Homo sapiens: one gene and its partner. The protein of the gene in region 1 interacts with the protein of each later gene in a biochemical or structural test. Each region holds a gene or a part of one and is shown on either strand. Other genes may lie near its edges.

The links. Proteins that work in one complex are often made in the same cells at the same time.
Region 2: the proteins of MORC2 (region 1) and SIRT2 form a complex in vitro, tested with the Homo sapiens proteins (one study listed by BioGRID).

What each region holds. Positions count from the first base shown.
Region 1 is NC_000022.11:30,937,620-30,941,274, forward strand, and holds part of MORC2 (ATPase MORC2), read right to left. Parts: intron 3,219-3,655; coding exon 3,139-3,218; intron 2,423-3,138; coding exon 2,340-2,422; intron 2,088-2,339; coding exon 2,002-2,087; intron 587-2,001; coding exon 446-586; intron 351-445; coding exon 196-350; intron 93-195; coding exon 1-92. UniProt on the Homo sapiens protein: Essential for epigenetic silencing by the HUSH (human silencing hub) complex. Recruited by HUSH to target site in heterochromatin, the ATPase activity and homodimerization are critical for HUSH-mediated silencing.
Region 2 is NC_000019.10:38,880,326-38,882,759, reverse strand, and holds part of SIRT2 (NAD-dependent protein deacetylase sirtuin-2), read left to right. Parts: intron 1-1,268; coding exon 1,269-1,328; intron 1,329-1,604; coding exon 1,605-1,660; intron 1,661-1,862; coding exon 1,863-1,939; intron 1,940-2,023; coding exon 2,024-2,075; intron 2,076-2,434. UniProt on the Homo sapiens protein: NAD-dependent protein deacetylase, which deacetylates internal lysines on histone and alpha-tubulin as well as many other proteins such as key transcription factors.

The DNA.
Region 1 (3,655 bases):
GCGTTTGTAACGCAGCTCACTGGATGGGGGCTGGTTCCAGTTGGCAGAGAGGTAGCCAAACTCATCCCAGAACTTGATGATTCCCCTCTGGGCTGGAAAGCAAACACCGATACATCATGTTAGGAGCCAGCCTCTCTCTCTCCCTACATTCAGGTGAAGAGAAAAGGCAGAGGCCCAGCAGCCCAGCCCCATTACCGATGGCAATATCCTTCCAATACTGCGCCAGGTGCTCCCCCATTGCTCGGAGCAGGTGCCGGTACTCCTTGGCATCAGCAAAGTCCTGTTTGTTGTGTGTAGGCTCCAGGACCAGGTAGGGCACATCAACAACCCCAACAACCCCGCCACATGCCCTACAGGGAGAAAGAGAACAAGCTCTGTCACCCCACTGGCAACGCCCTCCTGCCAACTATCCTGGGCTAGACAGCTCTCTGTGGGTAGTACTCACATGCCCCCTTCCAGCTGTGGGCCCACTTTCTCATACATTTTGATCAGTCGGCTACAGTTGTAGATGAACATGCCATCCAGATCCCGGTGTTCAATGTTGACACCAAAAACAAAATTCAGTTCCTTAGGTTCTTTAAGTGCTCTAAGAAGACAAAAAAACTCAAGCAGATCTACACATCGGCACACAAGCACCATAGTGTTTAAGATGTGTTAAGCTTAAGCTTAAACTTGAAACATGTTAAGCCAAAAGTTTTGTATCTCTATTTGATGTGTAACCTGTTAGACTTGATATGGACATGCACTGGGCACCAACTCAAAGCATCCCTAATTAAAAACATGAGTGTGGCTTTTTGGCAACAGGGATGGTTGCCAAACCATTCATATTCATTAAATATGAATTGTTTATTACGAAGCTGCTGCAAATCTGTGCAAAGACAATTATATGTTGGAATAAACACCAGGTTATCGTCATACCTTCCCCAAAATTCCACTAGTATGATAGTAAATTATTATAATTTTTTTTTGAGACATAGTCTTGCTCTGTCGCCCAGGCTGGAGTGCAGTGGTGCGATCTCCGCTCACTGCAATCTCCGCACCCTGCATTCACACCATTCTCCTGCCTCAGCCTCCCAAGTAGCTGGGACTACAGGTGCCCGCCACCATGCCCGGCTAATTTTTTGTATTTTTAGTAGAGACAGGGTTTCACTGTGTTAGCCAGGATGGTCTCGATCTCCTGACCTCGTGATCCACCCACCTCAGCCTCCCAAAGTGCTGGGATTACAGGCGTGAGCCACCGTGCCCGGCCAATTATTATTATTTTAAAAGGCAAAAATTCACAAGAATAATAAGCATGTGCAATAAGACACCATCATGTGATTACTATCAACAAAAACTTAGAGCTGAAAAGCAGATGGATGAGGAGTGGACTGACTTGGAGAGAAAAAACCTGAAACCCATGCCTGTGCCAAGGAGGCCAACAAGAGGCAAAACAGTGAATCAAGCCACAGAGTCCAAAGAGGATCCAGACATGGAGGTGGGACAAGCAGGAAACTTAATGATCCAGGACAAATGCTGGTTCTAAATGCAAAAGTATACAACACTCAATCTCCAGCATTATTCTACATACATAACCACTGAGGAGAAAATGAATATGAAAAAATATATATGTAACATAAAAAATAGGGTCGTATCACCAGGTGGTAGAAGTATAAGGGAGTTTAAAAATGTTACTCCTTAAACATTTTATATTTTTCAAGTTTCATACAATGAGCATTTTATACATCCTTTAAATGAAAAGAAAGAAAGAAAAAGGGAAGAAAAGGTAAGACAGTGCCAAAGGATGGTTTTGGTGCTCGAGCCGAGGTTGTCAGCCCTGCCCTGTCTTTATGACTCAAAAAAGGGCTGAGAGCTAGGATTAAGACTTCCCTCCTGCAGGAGGCATTTGACAAGCATTTGGCATTAAAACAAAGCAGTCTTGGTGACAGAATAGCAACCTGTCAATAATCAGTCCAAAAGCTACGTCAGTTTAAAAGATCCAAGGACAGGCCTGGCACTCACCGCTGCTTGGCCTCCTTGATCCTCTTCTTGACATCGGCTTCTCTGCGCAGAGTGATGGCTCTGTTCTGGACCTGTCGCAACATCACCTGCACACATTGACATCAGGTGAGGGGAGGTGGCACTCTAGGCCACAGCAGGGAATATTGAAACATTACATCTAAGACATCTCAATTTATCTCAAAGATGTAAAACCACACCTGGAAATTTACTTCTTTCTACAGAAAACAGCCCTCACTGGGGACAAACTCAAAAGCTGTGTTTTACTTGACCAGGCTCATGGGACATGGGCTCCTAGTGCCAGAAACGCTGGAGAACAGCCGCCTGGGCCGGGACCTTACCCTGGAGTCCCGCGTGAGGTCTCCACCTAGGCGTACTTCTAATGTCCGAGCTTTGCTCTCTGCCTCCCGCGCCTTCTCTTCAGCTGAAACCCAGAAGAGAACATGGTAAGAAATGCAAAGGTTCAAAACTCTTGGTCATCCCTCCTGGATCCACAGTACTGGACACGAAGTGTGTACACCACCAAGGAAAAAAAGAGTAGGGGGAGCTATGGCTGGTGAGCAATGTGAGGGCAGCCTCTGTGCCTGGACGGCAGTCAGTCACAGAAGGAAAATCTGGCATTCAAACCTATCACGGAGGCCCCAAGGAAACTTTACAAATGAACCAGAACAGGTTTAAAAAAAAAAAAAAAACACCTAAGGCAACCAGTTGAACACTCAGCTTGAGCTGGAAGCTAAAGAAGTCTTCAGCCAATCACTCTCCAACAAGCAGCCGAGAAACCCTGAGAAACCCTGAACAGCGAGAGAGCCCCTGAGATGTTTGCCCTGAAGTCAGGAAAAGCAATTTCACAAGTATTTGCACCAGAGAACTCAGTGGGATTCTTCAATTGGGATAAGCCAAAGAGCTGACACTTTTAGGCCCTATAAATGGCAGAAGAAGAGAAAGTGGAGTGTAGAAAGAAGAAATGCTGAGGGAGTTGGCATGTAGTGAAAGGGGCTGCAAAGGAACTGAACTATGCTTCAGGAGACCAGCCTTGTCCCTGAGTTGTGGACTCAGCCTTTTCCTGGAACCCCACTTTGCCCACAAGCAGCATACCCCAGATGCACACCCCCCCAACTCCTGCACCCAGAGTGGCATTACCAATCCTTGCTACGTGCTCTGCTTTCTTCACCTCCTGCTCCGCACGGGTCTTGAAACGGCTTGACGTGTACTTGTACATCCTGATCAGTAGAAAAAGCAAGCTGATGGCCCACGCAGCAGTGGGGCAGGTGGCACACCCAAGCACAGGAAGCACCCTGCCTTCCTGCCTCCTCCCAAGCTGTGCTGTCCTGGCCCCTCATGATGAGACAAATCCAAGCTCAATTCAGCAAAAAGGTGCAGTTCCTTATTCCACTTGCCCTTAGCCTCCTGCTGTCTTTGATAAGCAACCTCACCATTCACCAGGGTTGTCATTCATCCCACAGCAGAAACAAACCTCAGGAGTAAGCCAAGCCCACTGCTTTCCTATATAGTGTCTAAAGGCCCCTTGGCCCTAAAGCCAAGAGACTCAGACAGCTCACTGAGCCAGGCAGGGCACCCTCCCTGTCACAGAGGCACACATACTCAATGAGCTTAGCCAGCCACCTCCACAGCTGATCTGTCCCTCCTCTAGGACCCA
Region 2 (2,434 bases), on another chromosome or scaffold:
TGACATTGAAACAATGCTTTATAAATGTGTGCTGAATGAATGAATGGACAGTTGAGCAAATGACTTAGAATTCAGTGGGTTGCAAGTGACAGAAATGCTTTCTTTCTTTCTTTTTTTTTTTTTTGAGATGGAGTCTTGCTCTGTCACCCAGGCTGGAGTGCAGTGGTGCAATCTCGGCTCACTGCAACCTCCGCCTCCCGGGTTCAAGCAATTCTCCCTGCCTCGGCCTCCCAAGTAGCTGGGATTACAGGCACGTGCTACAACCCCTGGCTAATTTTTATATTTTTAGTAGAGACGGGGTTTCACCACGTTGGCCAGGCTGGTCTCAAACTCCTGACCTCAAACGATCCACTCGCCTCAGCCTCCCAAAGTGCTGGGATTACAGGCGTGAGCCACCACACCCGGCCAGAAATGCTTTCAAGCTTCCTAAATCAATAAGAAATAAGGCCAGGCACAGTGGCTCATGCCTGTAATCCCAACACTTTTGGACGTCGAGGTGGGTGGATCACTTGAGCCCAGGAGTTTGAGAACAGCCTGGGCAACATAGGGAGATCCCATCTCTAAAAAAAATAAAATGTAGCCAGGTGCGATGGTGGATGCCTGTGAGCCCAGCTACTCGGGAGGCTAAGGCAGGAGGATCACTTGAGCCTGGGAAGTCGGTGGTGCAGTAAGCTATGATCACACCACTGCACTCAACCATGATTGCACCACCACACTCCAGCCTGGGCAACAGAGTGAGAACCTGTCTCAAAAAAACAAACAAACCAATAAGGCCGGGCGCAGTGGCTCACACCTGTAATTGCAGCTCTTTGAGAAGCCAAAGTGGGCAGATTTGCTTGAGCCCAGGAGTTTGAGACCAGCCTGGGCAACATGGCGAAACCCTGTCTCTACAAAAAATACAAAATTTAGCCGGGCGTGCTGGCATGCACCTGTAATCCCAGCTACTCAGGAGGCTGAGGCAGGAGGATCACTTGAAGCTGGGAGGTTGAGGCTACAGTAAGCCATGATCGTGCCACTGCATTCCAGCCCGGGCAACAGAGTGAGACCTTATCTCAAAAAAAAAAAGAAAGAAAAAAACAAAAAAAATGCAACAACAAGAAGAGAGGTCTTTTCTGAGCAGAGTGGACACCTCAGGAGACACCCATCACACTCCAAGTGATGGAGGTGTGTTCATGTTAACAGTGGAAGAGGGGTGGGGGTGCTGCACCTCCAGACTCCGGCCCAGATCCTCTTACTGCCTTCTCTTTCTTCCCCTTCCCCATACCCAGAGAAGATCTTCTCTGAGGTGACGCCCAAGTGTGAAGACTGTCAGAGCCTGGTGAAGCCTGGTGAGCCTCTGGCCAGGGACCTGCCCAGGTGGATTTGGGTGGGGGTCCCCTCCTCCCCCTGACCCCCTCCCAAAGGCCACACCCGCACACATCTGGCCACCTCTGTCTCTCTGAACAGTGCCCCAGATCCATCCTGGGGAGAATGGGGTCTGTGCCCCTGGCCGGTCCCCACTGCTCCCAACTCCCACTGTGGCCTCCGGGTCTGCCATTGCTCCCACCTGTCCTCTCTGCCTCCCCATGTCACTGTCTCTGTCCGTCCATCTGTCTCCACCTCAGATATCGTCTTTTTTGGTGAGAGCCTCCCAGCGCGTTTCTTCTCCTGTATGCAGTCAGTAAGTGGCCCCCCAGCCTCCCCGCATCCCCAACCGCCGCCTCCACCTGTGCTGGGCCCCATGGGGGCAGCCTGGGCCCTGCCTCAGGAAAGGTCACCTCCCCAGCTATGGGGGGCGGCAGGGAGGTTTGCTGCTGGGGGCGGGGGAGGGAGCGGTGGCGCAGCCTGGGCGGAGGCTCCCAAGCTCACGCCCCTCCCCGCAGGACTTCCTGAAGGTGGACCTCCTCCTGGTCATGGGTACCTCCTTGCAGGTGCAGCCCTTTGCCTCCCTCATCAGCAAGTAGGTTGGGGGCTGTGGCTGGGAGGACGGCTGGGCACCCAGGGCCAGGACAGACCCTGACCCCTTAGCTCCCCCTCCCCACAGGGCACCCCTCTCCACCCCTCGCCTGCTCATCAACAAGGAGAAAGCTGGCCAGGTAAGAGCCCTTCTTCAAGCCCCCGTCGTCACAGGCTCCCCCTTCCCTCTCACCCTTTTCCTCAGAGGGAACCCCCACTGTGGAACCCCAGCACTTTGCATTCCTCAGCTCAGAACCTGGGGCTCTAGAATCCAGAGGGGTCGGGTTCCAGGCCTCTGGGACATTCACTGCCCTTTTGAGCAAGTGATAGAATTCCAACTCAAACCAGCTGAAGCCAGATAGGAAGGCCGGGCTTCCAGGGACTGAGGAGGTGGGAGGGGGTGCAGGGGTCAGGAGAGACAGTGCGGGGGGCGGGGTTGGGTCCACGCTCTGGGTCTCTCAGGTCTGTTTTTCCTGGGCAGCCTCACTCTAGGGCAGGT